2 separate regions of the Homo sapiens genome follow, and region 2 is linked to region 1. The links come from fine-mapping of genetic effects on gene expression. Tissue or cell type: monocytes after LPS. Region 1 holds a variant in brackets; the other region holds the start of a gene. All regions are shown on one strand. Distances are from middle to middle.

What was found. PIP is the estimated chance that this variant, and not a neighbour inherited with it, causes the effect.
Region 2: PIM1 starts here. The variant in region 1 is fine-mapped to the expression of PIM1 in monocytes after LPS (Fairfax 2014, PIP 0.95).

The regions. Positions count from the first base shown.
Region 1 is chr6:37,053,163-37,061,328 of GRCh38, reverse strand. No RefSeq gene overlaps it. Among named protein-coding and RNA genes, the nearest start is that of FGD2, 52 kb to the right of the region's middle. RefSeq lists enhancers at 3,099-3,598, 3,599-4,100, 4,148-5,034. The variant G/A (reference allele first, on the strand shown) is at 4,224.
Region 2 is chr6:37,165,737-37,173,902 of GRCh38, reverse strand. PIM1 (Pim-1 proto-oncogene, serine/threonine kinase) reads right to left here and starts at 3,751. Exons shown (of 6, transcript NM_002648.4): 1 at 3,246-3,751; 2 at 3,024-3,130; 3 at 2,872-2,922; 4 at 2,412-2,778; 5 at 731-907. The coding sequence starts at 3,327. RefSeq lists silencers at 1,634-1,733, 2,923-3,242, 3,503-4,282 and enhancers at 1,393-1,986, 3,908-4,506.

The sequences.
Region 1 (8,166 bases):
AATCCCAGCTGCATGACCTTAAACACATCCCCTGTGCTGCGCTTCCTCATCTGTGAAATAGATATGATAATGATCTTTTTTTTTTTTGAGATGGAGTTTCATTCTTGTTGCCCAGGCTGCAGTCTAACTGGCTCACTGCAGACTCTGCCTCCCGGGTTCAAGCGGTTCTCCTGCCTCAGCCTCCTGAGTAGCTGGGATTACAGGCACGTGCCACCACACCTGGCTATTTTTTTATTTTTAGTAGAGAAGGGGTCTCTCCATGTTGGTCAGGCTGGTTTCAAACTCCCAATCTCAGGTAATCCGCCCGCCTCGGCCTCCCAAAGTGCTAGGATTACAGGTGTGAGCCACTGCACCCGGCCGATAATGATCTCTTTTATCCAGTTACTCCATCAGGAGCACATAGGCTAATGTATGTGAAAATGCTTTATGAGCTGAAAGTGCTTAAATGATATTTTCTGTGAAAATTCATCATGGTTATTTGAAAAGTTGTTTTATTTATTTATTTTAAATTAATATTTATTTATTTATTTATTTATTTGAGACAGAGTTTCGCTCTTGTTGCCGAGGCTGGAGTGCAATGGCGTGATCTCGGCTCACTGCAACCTCCGACTCTCAGGTTCAAGCAATTCTCCCAAGTAGCTGGGACTACAGGCACCTGCCAACTCGCCCGGCTAATTTTTTGTATTTTTAGTAGAGACAGGATTTCACCATGTTGGCTAGGCTGGTCTTGAACTCCTGACCTCAGGAGGTCTGCCTGCCTTGGCCTCCCAAAGTGCTGGGATTACAGGCGTGAGCCACCTTGCCTGGCCTATTTATTTACTTCAAATCAACTAGTTCTTAAGTGTTTGATACCCACTAACTGCATGTGCCCAGCATTGTGCTTAATGCTTCCAGCAAGTCAAGAAATGTAAGATGAGTATGGCTTGTTGCCAAGGAACTTATGCTCAATTTGAGGAAATGGAGCACTCACGTTGAAAGCCCATTTCCTTTCTGTCAATGAGAGGGAGCACTCCGATTCTTGTAAATCAGTTTCTATCACTGGGCCTAGTTTCCTCAGCTGTGAAAAGGAAATGGAGATGCCCGCCTATAATCCCAGCACTTGGGGAGGCCAAGGCAGGAGGAATGTTTGAGCCCAGAAGTTTGAGATCAGCTTGGCCCACATGGTGAAACCCCTTCTCTACAAAAAATACAAAAATTTACCGGGCGTGGCCATGTGCACTTGTGGTCCCGGCTACTTGAGAGGCTGAGGTGGGAGGGTCACTTGAGTCTGGGAGGTCGAGGCTGCCCCTGTCACCAGGCCCTGGTGTGTGAGCCTGACAGGGTGGGGGTAGCCAAGACAGTCCCCTGGCAATGCAGACAACAGCAGGAGAGAATAAGAGCTGTGCTGAGGGTCCTGGCTGAGCCTGAAGGAGCACAGGAGCCGGGAAGTGTTGCTTCCCCCAGTAGCTGGGCCTGGGGGCGCCTTCCTGGGCCAAGTCTTCTCCACAGGGAGCAGGAGGCTCTGCGAGTCAGCCCGCCCTGTCTCTCCTCCTCCTCCAGGCATGCCACCCTCTCCGCACACAGCAGGGTCTGTGGGGGTGGAGGCTTTTTCCAGACATGTATTTAAGTGAGGAGAGAAAACAAGGCGAGTCGCCTAGGATTTGCCAAGTCAGTAGGCAGGAACACAACCCAGGAGGCCAGAAATAAGACGCTGGTGAGGGTCACCCTGCTCTCCGGAGCTGGGGACGGTTTATAGCCCGTGCAGAACGCGTTATAATCACACTTTTGTTTGAGGATGGCCCTTGATCCCCGGGTGTTGTTGCTCTCCTGGTTGGAAGGTAGCAGAGCCCTGATTGTGGGCAGTGAGTAATGGTGACTCAGGGAAATTCACAAGGACACAGGGAACACCCCCAAAGTCATCCAGGGACATGCCCTGGTTCCCCCTGCCGGTCAGGGAGCCAGAAGTTCTGGTCCCCTTTGTAAAGGAGGAATTTCTAAAGTTTTCTCTGGAACTTTGGCAGAATTCTGTAGGACCTTTCAGGGGAAGCATTCGGCTTTGGGAATTTTTGGGGGGGAGATTACTAAAAGTTTTAAGGCTTTGTATCTATTTATGAATTAGCTTCTTTTCTCTCTCTTTTTAAAATTTTTAATTAATTAATTAATTAATTTATTTATTTATTTTGAGACCAGGTTATGAGACTGGCTATTTTTTTTTATTTTTGGTAGAGACACGGTTTCACCATGTTGCCCAGGCTGGTCTCAAACTCCTGGCCTCAAGTGATCAACCCACCTTGGCTTCCCAAAGTGCTGGGATTATAGGCGTGAGCCACCGCACCCGGCTTTCTTTTCTCTTTTAGCTCCTAATTATATTTGTCTCTTAATCTGATTGGGCATTTGTTACCTTGTATGCAAACAATTCTCCAGAAAACAAATTATGACAATAATAATAACAGCTAATGTTTATTCACCCCTTACGACATGCCAGGTACTGGTCTCTCCGTGTATTTTTGTGTTTCATCAAATCTACAGTTCCATCAATCATTAGACATCACGTTATTTGTGTACCACTAAACGATGCTGCCAATTAATCCTTGATATGCCATTGATTTTCAGACTCACCCTGATTTCAGAAATGTTAAAATGGAGATCAATTTTAATCATCTTAGAATCCATGAAATGCAGTAATTAAATCTCAGTTACCATCCTTGCCTTACAGACGGGTAAACTGAGGGACAGAGAGGTTGAGTAAATCTGTCCCAATCTTACCCAGCAAGTATGTAGTGGAGAGGAGAGCCGAACCCAGAGTTGGGCTCCAAAGCCTGTGCTCATAACCGCTGCACTATATTGTGCCTTAGGAAGTCGGATCTGTTCACCGGCAAGACAGGAGGAAGGACACAAAATAACAGAGGGAAAGCTGGACCCACCCTCCACTCCCTTCTCACTATCCCCAGGGCCAGTGGTCACCAGGTCCTGTTGATGTCTCTTCCAAAAACTCTCCCAGATCGTGCTCCTCTTCTTGCTCCCAGCAGCTGACTCGCTGGTTCTATCCTTCCTTGCATCTGCTTGGACTATTGCAATAGCCTCTAAGCTGTTGCCCATCTCCAGCCCCGCCCACTCCCCAACATAGACACTGGAGTCAGAGTCATCTTTCTAAAATGTGAGTCTGATCTTGTTACTCTGCTTGGAAGCATCTGAGGGATCCAAATCCTAGTGCGTGTTTGCTCGCACCTGTGGCAGCCTCTGTTCTAGGCAAACCCCAACATGGTCCAAGCCCTTGTGGAGGCCATGGTCTCACAGAGAAGCAAGACCCCACGGTGGGCAGTTATGATACGATGTGAAACATGCTTCAGTGGGGGGCGTGCTGGGCCCATGGGAGGAGCCCTTGCTCTGGGACCTAAGGGACCACTTCGTAATATCTAAGCCAAGACCGCCAGGATGCATGGGAATTTACCAGGCAAAGGACAGTGAGGATTTCCAGGCAGAAGGAAGAGCAGTGCAAAGACCCAGACTAAAGAGAGATGTTGGAGCATGGACTGTCAGCTGGGGCACAATCCCAGCTGAGGCTGGAAGGACAGTTGCGTGAGGCTGGCTCCTACAGAACGGGCCTCACCTTTCTCTTTCAGCTTAGCTCCTTTCTGCTCCTCTTCCCACCAAATCCCCCTGCAGCAAGTACTTGTGTCCTGAACAGTCTTCCTCCTCTTCACATGTGCTCCACGGGCACCTCACCCCTGCCCAGCAAACTTATCCACCCAGACCCTGCTAGAAGGTAGCCTCCCAGTGAAAACACCCCTGACCCTTGAGTTATCTCTGCAAGCTCCAAGCCGGGCGGAAGAAGACTGAGGCGCTGGTCTCAGGTTCAACTGGGGGATTTGGGAGCATTTTGACAGAAATCAACTGAGAAAAAGCCAAAGTTCCTACAAAGGCCTATAAGACCCCACAAGTCTGCACCACCTCCACCTCTCTGACCCCGTCTTCCGCTATCTGCCCTGTTGCCAGCTTGCTTCAGCTACGTGTCTCCTGGCTATTCCTGAAACCACCCTGACTCCCACTCCCACCCCAGGGCCTTTGCACTCGCTGTTTCCTGGTATAGTTTATTTCTCCCTTATTTGCACAGCTCCCTTCTTTACCTCCACCTTCATCAGATTTTGCTCAAATACCACATTCTCAGAAAGGCCCACCCTGAACACCCTATTTAAAGGCATGGCCCCCATCTCACACTCTTCCTGCCTTTATTTTTCTCCACA[G/A]CACTCACCATCTTCTGCAGCTTATGTGATTCACTTATTTATTTGTTTACTGTCTGACTTTTCCCACAAGAATGTGAGTTCCAAGAGGGCAGGGATTTGGGTCTGCCTGGTTCACTCTGTAGCCCCAGCACCTCGCCCAGTGTCTGGCATACAGTAGGTGCTCAGTAAATATTTGTTAGTCAAATGAATGAATTGTGAGCTCTGACTGTGTGCCTGGTACACTCTGCCCTGGACACCATGGAGGACGGGGAGCTGAGGGAACGAGGTCTCTGCCCCTCAGAGGGTGCCTGCTGAGCTGGTTCCAGCGGGCAGTGGGACAGGTCCCTGACAGCCAGGTGAGTCCAGGTGAATCACCACTAATGAGATGGGGAGGGCCACGCCAAGCGGCTTCCCACACAGGCAGCCGACAGGTCACTGCCTGTCGCCAGGAAACTCCTCAATAAGGATTGAACAGGACCCTGGGCTGGGGCGGAGGAAGTGCCCGCCTCTCCTGGAGACCCCACCCATTCCTGAGGACTGAGTCGGCTCACCTGGGCTCCCCCACCCCCTAGGCCTTGGCAAGATGCTGGTTTCTCAACCTGGCCGAGATTTCCTTCCTAAAAGGAGTTTCGCTCGCTCAGCCCCACGCCCATCCCGGGCAGGACCTGTTTGTCAGCCAGCCCTGTCTGGGTCCCTGAGACTGCAGAGGGAGGACAGCTGAATCTGGAAAACCCTGGGACCTCCCCCGCCCCAGCAGCCCATAGGAGGGTCGGTAGACCAGAGCTTATTCAGGGTATGGACAGACCAATGGGGCTCATTAAACCCAACAAGACAGCGTGGGGTGGCCTCCGTGACCACATTCCACTCACCCCGCCGGAGCCTGGGGCCCACTAGAGTGCCCTGAGCCCAGGCCAAATGACCATCCCAGGGCAGGGCATGGCTGTCTCATCTGCACAATGGGGCAAAGCCTCCTGCCCTGTGGGTGGCTGAGGGCCGGGATGAGATCATGGGTACGCAGAGTAAGGAATGCAGGTGGGCAGCCAGGCCTCCACCCCGCAGCTCAGAAGATGTGGCCGATGTGGCCCATGTCTGGGGAGGAAGCTGTCCAGCCCTTGGCCTACAGTGAACTTGGCCAGTCCAGCACCACCCCCCTCCCTTCCTCTCGGCGGGGGGGCCGGGGGGCACTTGAGGCCCCACCTGGCCCTCCTGCCCCAGAACCCAAATAGCCCCTTGCTGAATTGCCTCACCCCAGCCATCTATGCAGGCCTAAAGTCGCCACCTGTAGTTACTCACATCATACTCATACATCCATAGCTTTCAACAAATGTACTTGGCCAGTCATCAGATGTCCCAGGAGCACTCCTAGCTGCCAGGCACAGGGTAAGACCAACGGACGCAAAGATGGTGGGGCAGGGCCCCATCTCAAGGGGTGCACAGTTTGGGGAGGGTAGTCATAAAAATATAGCTTCCATAAAAGCACCAGCAGGGCCCTGACACACACACACACACACACACACACACACACACACACACACACACACACACAATCTATGAGGCGCTGGAGGGGCTCCTCGGGGGCTCAGAGAAAGGATTGGTTGGCCTGGCAAGGTGAGGTGTCAGGTGGAGCCTCATGGGAGAGCTGCAGCTTGAGCAGGGCTGTCCCTGTGCCTTGCTTTGTCTTTGTCATGTAATCCTCACAACAGCCCTGTGAGGCCAACAGCACAGGGGTCACCATGCCCATGTTATGGGTGAAAAACTAAGGTTCAAAGAGGTGAAGTGACTTGCCCAAGGCCTAATGATGGTGAGTGGCAGGGGTTTATCTGGAATTCCAGTTTCCTGACCCCCATGCAGTGGTCTCTCCTGCCCTGCTGTGAGTTCCTTCCTGTCTTCATGTGTCCATTTGTACAGCGAATCCAACCTGGCTACTTACTAAATGCCAGGCAGTATCTGCGAGCTGGGGACCTTAGAGACAGTAAGGTATCACCCAGGCAGGGGAAGCCACACGCACATACCCAGACAGTGCAATCTCCCATTCAAGTCAACATTCAGCAGATGTACAGTGGAACACCAACTGGGAGCCAGGCGGCACACAGGTGCCAGGGTTGCAGCAGTGAACGAGACAGACAGAGTGCAGTCCTGTGGAGGCTTTCTACTACTAGAGAGGGCAGAGAATAATCGCAGAGTAAGGGAGCACGACGCAGGGTGAGGGAAGAGAGAGGGGCCAGGGCGCTTCTTCAGATGGGCTGATCAGGGAGGGCCTTCCCAAAGCAGATCCTGTTTGCTTATGATTGTTTTGAGATGACAGTTGAGGAGAGGAGCCCTGTGGGTACCTGAGGAAATATGCCAGGCAGGAGTAACGGCAAGTGCAAAGGCCCTGAGGCAGGAATGCACTTGGAGGTGTTCTGAGGAGCATCAGGGAGCTGAGAGGGTGCAGGGGAGTGGCAGGATGTTAGGTGAGGGAGGTGATGGGAGTGCGGGAGGCACAGGTCCTAAAGGCTTTGCGGGTCATAGTGAGGGCTTTGCTTTTACCCCACGTGAACGAGCCACTGGAGGGTTGTGAGCTCAGGGCTGAGCTGATGTAACCTAGGTTTTGAAAGGATCTCTCTGGCTGCTATGGAGAACAGACTCTAAGGGGGTCTTTTTCTTGTCTATGTGTCTGCTTCGTGCATACCGTGGTATCCACTTGACATCGTAGCATAAGCGTTGTCCTTTGATGTTAAAACTCTCAGAAACGGCCGGGCGCGGTGGCTCACGCCCGGGGAGGCAGAGAGTCAAAGAGGGGGCTACTGAGATAACCAGGTGAGAGGTGGGCCAGGGTAGTGGTGGAGAGAGGAGCTGTGGTCACATTCAGGATGTGGAGTTTTTTAAATTAATTCATTTTTTACAGGTGAAGTCTCACTCCGTTGCCCAGGTTGGAGGGCAGTGCATGATCATAGCTCACTGCAGCCTTGAACTCCTGGGTTCAAGCGATCCTCCCTCCTCAGCCTCCTGAGTAGCTGGGACTACAGGTGTGCACCACCATGCCCAGCTGGGGATGTTTTGAAGGTAGCCCCAAATGTACTTGCAGACATCCTGGACATGAGGTATGAAAGAAAGTGAGGGCTGAAGAACAATCCTGGCTCCAAGAGCGGGAGGGCAGCTCTGCCCAGGTCGTGCTTGGCCTGAGGTGCCACATCTTCTACCTGGAGTGTGACGTGGGACATGGCACTCCGCAGGTTGACCAATGTGGAGTTTGGACAGAGTTGGGCCCTTCTTCCCTGCTGGGGGGCTTGGGCCACCTCGTTTAATCTCAGATGTCAGGAATTGGGCTAAGCAGGGTTTTATGTGAGTTGAGCTGAGCAGGCTGTCATCTCCCTCCCACCCTAGGTGGGACCGTCAGCCGGCATATTTTTGGAAAGTATTTTGTCCATATGTATCAAGACTTTTAAACTTTCATGCCCTTTGACCCAGTGAATCCCTTTCAAGGAAGTTCTGCTGGGGAAGCCATCTGAAATGCAGGCAGCACTGATGGATCAAACCCTTCACAGGGGATTATTTAGAATCGCCAAATAAATAAATACACAGCCTGCATGTCCAACAGTAGGGAGTGTTTAAGTCAAGCAGATATAGTCTGGCACCTTGTTGTACTGGATTGTTGTGCTGACCTTAAATTCACGTTTCTGAGAGTTTTTTTTTTTTTTTTTTTTTTTTTTTGACGGAGTCTCACTCTGTCGCCCAGGCTGGAGTGCAGTGGATCTTGGCTCACTGCAAGCTCTGCCTCCCGGGTTCAAGCCATTCTCCTGCCTCAGCCTCCCGAGTAGCGGGGACTACAGGCGCCCGCCACCATGCCTGGCTAGTTTTTTTTGTATTTTTTTAGTAGAGATGGGGTTTCACCGTGGTAGTCAGGATGGTCTCGATCTCCTGACCTTGTGATCCACCCGCCTCGGCCTCCCAAAGTTCTGGGATTACAGGCATGAGCCACCGC
Region 2 (8,166 bases), 110 kb before region 1:
TGACTCAACTTGTTTTTACACTGCAAAGGTCTTCCCCATTTGCTTCTCAGAGGCCCACAAGTCTGGGGTCCCAGGGAGGCCAAGCATTTTCTAGAACACTGTGCTGGGTACCCTTCAATAGGAAGGTATTGACTAATATCTGGGTCCTCCAGTCTGCTTTCAGCTAAAAACTGACTCCCCTCTTAAACCTGTGGTTTTCAAACTTCAATAGTGGGGGCCTTTCCCACAACACCCACTCACCAGAAATAGGAAGGATGATGACAAGAGATTTTGATGAGACACCACTGAGCATGATGAAATGATTCAATTCACCTACCAACTTACAAACACGAACACCACCCACAGTGAGGTCACTGGTACCAAAATATTTGGAGCTGCTGCCTTAAAGAAGATGCTAAAAGAGCTTTTAACTTTTTACTCCCTGGCAAAACAGCCAGGAATTATCAGGTTTCTGTTGGTACCTTTAAAAAAGTTTTTGGAGAAGCCAGATTGTCTTTTCTTCTTAATATGCTCACACATGCCTTCCTCTGACCTCCCAAGGAAAGCTCAAGTGCAAACCATGTGATTTATGAGGCCAGCTCAAGTGTAAATCACTCACCTACAATTCTAAGCCAAGGGTGACAGAATCTACTGGAGAGTGAAGCTCTCCAGAATTTCAAAGACTGTCCCATGAAGACTAATAGCCCCATTAAGACCAATAACCCCATGGCCAGGGGTTTCCATCAGTTACCTGAAGAGACCCTCTGCCTGAAGAAAACCTGGCCCCTGATGATCTCTTCGTCATGCTCGAAAGGAATATCTCCACACACCATATCATACAGCAGGATCCCCAGGGACCAGACTGCCGCCGACCTGCCATGGTAGCGATGGTAGCGGATCCACTCTGGAGGGCTATACACTCGGGTCCCTGTGAGCCAAGGGAATAGAAGAGAAAACACACTTTTAGCAAAAACAAGCACAAAGAAGCTGGGTGGTATATATAACTCTTTCTTTTAAAAAAAAAAAAAATCCCTTCTCTCAGGAGCTAGGTGAACTCCATTTTTCCCTCTGGGCTAAGGAGAGTGGAGGCGCACCTTACGGCATCTCTCCAACCCAAAGCATTACCCACCTCTCTGCTAGCCCAAACCATAAACTGAAATTCTTTATGAACTGCTCCAAGAAACAAACACAGCTGGCCGCAGACCCAAAACTTGAGGCCCTGTGAGGCAGGACCGCCTGCGAAGGATGAAGGGATGCATGTCTGCACAACCAAGAAAGGTATCTCATAGACTATCCTTAAATTGCATTCACCACTGCCCAGGAGCCCGGGTGAGATTCTCATGGCCGACAGGATCCAAGCAAGGATGCTTGCACAACATCCTAAGTCAGGGTGCCCTTTGGGAGGCCTTCCTCCCCACCCGATGCAAGCAGGAGCAGACACCCACACCCTTTCCTCCCTAGACTGGAAAGGTAGACAGAGCTGCAGGGTTGGTTTCAGACCACGTGATTCCTGTTTACAAACTTTGGGTAGTAAAAGAAAAAGGAGGGGCCATGCCGCTGGTGCTCACCAGGGGGCAGCAAAGACTTGAAAGAAAAAACATGGGAGGACCCGGCCAGCCATTAACTGTTAAATACAAAAAATGCAGCCCAACCCAGCGTCCTCCAAGGGCAAATAAACATAAACCACAAGCCCGAGTCACAAGTTTTGAAAGGCTGTCGTTTGTTAGGTTAAGCCGCTCAGATGATGACCCACCCTCCGCAGCTTTGATCTCAGGCTCTCCATTCCTTCTTTTCTGAAAGAACCCGCTCCAAGCCCCTCCCTAGGATAGGTTTTCATCCTCTCTGCGGAGACACCCAACTAATTTTCAAACCAGCGACAGATCTTATTTCACAACATTCATTCCTGACTCTCTCTCCCCTTAACACTAAAGAAAAAAAAAAGCCACCAGTAATAATATAGTTCCTATTCCTTAACCTTCCCTAGATCAGAAAGGAGTTAAGAACTGCAGCTCTAAAACTACCATACAGAAAACTAACTCCCTTATAAAATAAAACAAAAATTACAAAACCGGCATCAATTTCCACCTCTTCCCCCGCCCCCATCCTTTTACTGGCGGGGAAACTGGGTCAGACTTTAGAAAAATCTGGGCTACCGCCGGTTGCCCACAACCTCTTATTCATCGGGAAAGCCTGGAACTAACTGAATTCCACTTGAAGAATAAAATCATGCCAGAAACATTACAGGTTCAGCTGGCTGAAAATCCCCGGCTTTACTACGCTGGGAGGCTCTCCTGCGTCCCACCCCGGCTAGCATCGAGCCAGGCGGCCCAATGACCTTTACAAAAGGCTGGCGCGGGAGACTGGCCGAGGCCTCCGGACTGGGCCGGGCCGGGCCGAGTCACCTGGGCAGCTCCCTCCCGGGCCTGGCTCACCATCGAAGTCCGTGTAGACGGTGTCCTTGAGCAGCGCCCCCGACCCGAAGTCGATGAGCTTGAGCTCGCCGCGATTGAGGTCGATAAGGATGTTTTCGTCCTTGATGTCGCGGTGGAGCACCCCGCAGTTGTGGCAGTGCCGCACGGCCTCCAGCACCTGCCAGAAGAAGCTGCGGGCCAGCTCCTCTTGCAGGGCTCCCCTTTCCGTGATGAAGTCGAAGAGATCTTGCACCGGCTCGGGCCTCTCCAGGATCAGGACGAAACTGTCGGGCCTCTCGAACCAGTCCAGGAGCCTAATGACGCCGGAGAAACCCGAGCTCACCTTCTTCAGCAGGACCACTTCCATGGGCACTCGAGTGCCATTAGGCTGCAGGGGCGAGGGGGCCGCGTTAGGGCGGGAGTCGGGGGCGCCCCTCACCCCACCCACTCATCCTGGGGGTCGCTCCTGCAGGGCACTCACCAGCTCTCCCCAGTCGGAAATCCGGTCCTTCTCCACGTGTTTGATGGCCACCTGGAAGCCCAGGGTCTCCGTCAGGTTCCCTCGTCCGGGCTAAAGCACGCCCGTGCGCCCCCCGCCCGGCGCGCCCTCCCCACCGCGGGGCGCCCACTCACCGGCAAGTTGTCGGAGACGCGGATGCCTGAGTAGACCGAGCCGAAGCCGCCGCTGCCCAGTAGCGGGCCCACCTGGTACTGCGACTCCAGGGGCTCCTTCTCCTTGCCTAGGAAAGGGGGAAGCACGGGGACTCAGTGCCGGCCCGCGAGCCGCCAGCTCCCCACCCAGGAGATCCCGCCGCCGCCCCGCATCCCCGGGCCGGAGGCGGGGGGTGCTCTCACCGGGCGCCAGCTTGGTGGCGTGCAGGTCGTTGCAGGGCGCGGCGCGCAGGTGGGCAAGCGAGTTGATTTTGGACAAGAGCATCCCAACCTCCAGGATGTCGGCGCAGGGACGGTGCCCAGAGGAGCTGCCGCAGGAGCCGGAGCCGGGGCTGTGCCGAAGGCTATGCCTGGGGCTGTGGCTGTGGCTGTGGCTGCGGGTGGCGTTGCGGCTGTGGCTGCGGCTGGCGCGGAAGGCCGAGGGCGAGTCGGAGGACAACTGAGGGCGCTGCCGGGACTGGCGGCGGGAGGGCGCGCCAGCGGGGTCGGGCAGCGCTGAGAACGGCGGGGTGAGCGGCTCGTGGGGCTCGTGCGGCAGCGCCGCGGGGCAGGAGGCTAGTGGTTGCTGCTGCTGCTGCTGCTGCTGCTGCTGCCGGTCCCGCCGCCGCCGCTGCCACCGACTCCTCTCGGGCCTCCTCAGCCACCGCGGCCGCTGCAGCAGACGCCCGGCTCGCCCCGCAGCCAGGAGTAAAGGGGAGGAGCGCGCCGGCGGGGAGGGCGCGCGGGGAGGGCGCGGCGGGCGGGGACGGGGCGGGGCCTCTCCGGGAGGCCAAGGCGGGGAGCAGGGCTGCCGGGCCGGCCGAGGGAGGAGAGGGGGTGGGGAAGCGGCGGGACTGGGCGACTCCCCTCGGCCCCCGCCCCGCGCGCTCTGTGGCCGCGCCCCGGCCCCGCCCCTGCCAGCGCTACTCCAGCCAACCAGAGGCCGATTGATCTGCATAACTCGGCGCGCCCCGCCCCCGCCCCGCCCAGCTCTCGCGGTCAGAATGGTCTCTACGCCGCCACGACGTGGCGGGAAGGAAAAGGCGCCAAAATGGAGGGGGAGGGGCGCGGGGCGTGAGGGGAGGCGGGAGCTGGGTGTAGGGCCGCGAGGGAGGAAGGATGGGGAGGGGCGTATCGATTCAAACCCAAACAATAACAAAGCCATCAAAGGCCGCCCGAGGCCGGCTCTGCGGCTCTCCGTTTCGCTGAGGGTTTTGGGTCAAGGGCTCGAGCCGGAGCATAACAAGTTGCGCGGAGACGACGGGCGTTAGTGTGTCAGGCGGGGAGGCCGGCGCGCCGGGTGTCGGACTGTGTGTGGGGATGCCGACGAGGGTGGTCTTTCTGTGTGACTCAGACCCGAGACCTCCAAGTCGGCTGGGGCGGGCTGACGTCGCGCTGTAGGCTGGGGGCGGATTCTGGGGGTTTGTGTGTTGGGGGGCGCGTCGGGGGCGAAGGATCCGCAGGACATGAGTCACGGAGGGAGTGGAGGAGTCAGGCCTGGAACAGAACTGGAGGCGGGAGCCCCGCTCCTGCGGGAAAGGGATGCAGCCCTCAGTCGTTCCGGCCGGCTAAAAGCTCAGCCACGGGATTCCCATTTTAGAAATGCAAAAGCACCAGCGAATCCTGATTTCTGGGAAGGGATGTGTGTCAAAGGGCCGGGTAAAGAGGAAATCACGAAGCAAATGTTAGTGTTGTGATGCCAGATGCTGCCTCAGCCCCTTCTGTGAGGGCGGAAAATTCCTCATCTAAAACGAGGGTGGGAGGGTGCGCTTGATTTAACCAGTTTTCACGTTGTAGTCACCTTTTCATCAGCCTGTTATTACCAGGCAGGCAATACCAGCAATTATTGGCCAACCCCAAGTCTTGTCTCAAAGGAAACCCCCCACCCTCTGCCTCCCTTGGAAATAACCCGGAACACTGACCAATTCCACTTGCATCCTTTGTCCTTTTAAACTTCATGTAGAGTTGATAACGACGTGTGAAATGAGTAAATTAAAATACTATATAATCCATAAATTGAATTGTCAGTGGCCTAAGTAATTGAAAGCTAACTACATTCTATTTTAATTTTTTGAAGTGCCTGCCATTTAAAGGAAAAATCAGGATCCCTATAGCTGTCATTAGTGAATTTAAATGTTTCCTTTGAAAGTTTTCTACAGTGCTTGCTTTATAAAAGTGCCCAGATCCTCCACAACTTTTATGAATTTATCCTACAAAATATTACATATTTTCCTTTTGTTTGTGTACTGTGGCCGAACTCATTCATTTTTTATGACTAGGAGAAAACCCAAGGGAACAAGAATTACTCCCTTTTTGCAGATAGGAAAATGAAACATAAATAGGATGGCACAGGGTCATACAGCAGCTAAGAGAGGAGATGAAATGACCCAAATTCACCTCCTGAGTATTCAAAGCTTTCCGCTTATCAGGGTCTAAAACTGTCCTTGGCACCGAACAAGACATCATTAAACATATGTGATTCCCACTTCCATCCCTTCTACCCTCCCTTTCCTTTCTCAAACCCTCAAATGTAGTCAAACAGAACTATTCCCACTTGTTCCCACTCGCCTAGCACTTTACAGACCCTTTGCCTTTGCGGAAGCAATCAACCTGTCCTGGGAGAGCCCTCTCTACCTCTCCACTTTTATTCAAAGCCTTTCCACTCTTTAGGAAACAATTGTAGTTCTACCACAGATTGATGAACAAACTCAGAGCATTGGTTCACTGTCCACTAATCTGACAGTTGGGATTTGTTTTTTTAAATCCTTTTTGTTCATTTACTTTTCCATTATACTTTGTCTTCCTATTCCTTGAATGCCCTTTTTTTTTTTTTTTTTGAGACGGAATCTCGCCCTGTTACCCAGGCTAGAGTGCAATGGCACTATCTCGGCTCACTGCAACCTCCATCTCCCGGGTTCAAACAATTGGTTCTCCTGCCTCAGCCTCCCAAGTAGCTGGGATTACAAGCGCCCGCCACCATGCCCAGCTAATTTTTGTATTTTTAGTAGAGACGGAGTTTCACCATGTTGGCCAGGCTGGTCTCGAACTCCTGACCTTATGATCCGCCTGCCTCGGCCTCCCAAAGTGCTGGGATTACAGGTGTGAACCACCATGCCCAGCCTCCTTGGATTACAGGTGTGAGCCACCATGCCCAGCCTCCCTGAATGCATACTTTATCCAACATTTGTTGATAAAAGAGAAGACTATAATGGATTCTAACAAAAAGGCCATAATTAAAGTCAATTTATACCAAATTTAAATGAATTAAGTGGGCTTCGGGAACATAAAAGTTGGGAGCAAGGGCTTTAAACTAAGTTAGCCTGGTTTCAATTCCGGGATCTGGCAGCTACTAGTTAGGCATTGGTCAAGTTACTTAACCTTATTAAGCTTTAGACAGAATGGAGATAATAACAGCATCTACCTCATAGGGTTGTTGTAAGGAGCAAATAAAACTCTTGTTTGTAAAGCATATAACCCAGTACAGAGTAAACTTCTAATAAATATTAGCAATGATGATGGCAATAATGTTGATCGTGGTTATGATGATGATGTTTTTTAAAACGGCCTTTTTTTTTTTTTTTTTTTTTTTGAGACGGAGTCTCGCTCTGTCTCCCAGGCTGGAGTACAGTGGCGCAATCTTGGCTCACTGCAAGCTCTGCCTCCCAGGTTCACGCCATTCTCCTGCCTCAGCCTCCCGAGTAGCTGGGACTACAGGCGCCTGCCACCACGCCTGGCTAATTTTTTATATTTTTAGTAGAGACGGGGTTTCACCGTGTTAGCCATGGTGGTCCCGATCTCCTGACCTTGTGATCCACCTGCCTTGGCCTCCCAGAGTGCTGGGATTACAGGCGTGAGCCACCGCGCCCAGCCCAAACGGTCTTACACCTAGAAGGTACCAAAGGTAAACTACTGGATTAATAGTTCGATTTTTAACCATTTGGGGAGAGATGTGATTTAAAATAGTTGTTTCTAGTAGATCTTTTAGGCCTTTTAGAAAAAAAAATATGTATCAACTTCAACCTTTTTCACTTTTTCTAGGTCTTTGAAGGACTAAATATTTAATTAGAGCTAAAGTGATTAACATTTAATATATCTACTTTGTATAGTGGGGGCTTCACAGCTGGAAGTTACAAAACATGGACCTTGCTTGGCAAACAGCTTTGATTTACTTAAAACTGCTTTAAAAGATAATTAGTAAACATTCAGATGTGTTGTGGGTCAAAAGTTACTCCTCGAGAGTAGGGAACTTGATGTTTTGATTTATCGAAATATAGTCTTAATAAAATTAGCACTATTTGTGCTATCTCAAAGAATCTAACAAAGAATCAGAAAAATCACCCTAATAATTAAATGACAAGTGCTTTTGGAAGGATAAAAGGCCACAATTATGCTAACAGTTCTCTGGGAAGAGGAGCATTTATTAATATTAATTTGAACAATATCCAAATTAATCCTTAGGTGGTTTTCATATTCTGCCTGATATGGGTTTAATCAAGTCATTGTCAAAGGAATGACTTCATCCAGGGACTATATGCTTATGCAAAAAAAAAAAACAAAAAAACAATGACTTCAGCAAGTTCTGTAGTCACGAAATTTTTTTAAAAAACAAGTTTAGAAGAAAGTTTGAAAGTGATATCGGTACACAATTTTTTAAAGTGTCTGTAAGTCTAGTCAATGCATTTATATAACTAGGATTGTATAACTAAGACTCTATACGCTATTTATAATTAATCAGGTAGAGACGTATTGAATCTGCATCACTCATTTATCTCCTAAAAAAAATTTACTCAGTTTTTTATTTATTTTATTTAGTTTATTTGTTTTTGAGACAGAGTCCCACTCTCGCCCAGGCTGGAGTGCAGTGGCATGATCTCGGGTCACTGCAGCCTCCCCTTCCCGGGTTCAAGCGATTCTCCTGCCTCAGCCTCCCAAGTAGCTGGGATTACAGGCGTCCGCCACAACACCCGACTAATTTTTGTATTTTTAGTAGAGACGGGTTTCATCAGGTTGGCCAGGCTGGTCTCAAACTCCTGACCTCAAGTGATCCGGCGGCCTCAGCCTCCCAAAGTGCTGGGATTACAGGCATGAGCCACCGCGCCTGGCCAGACAGGAAACATTCTAAATT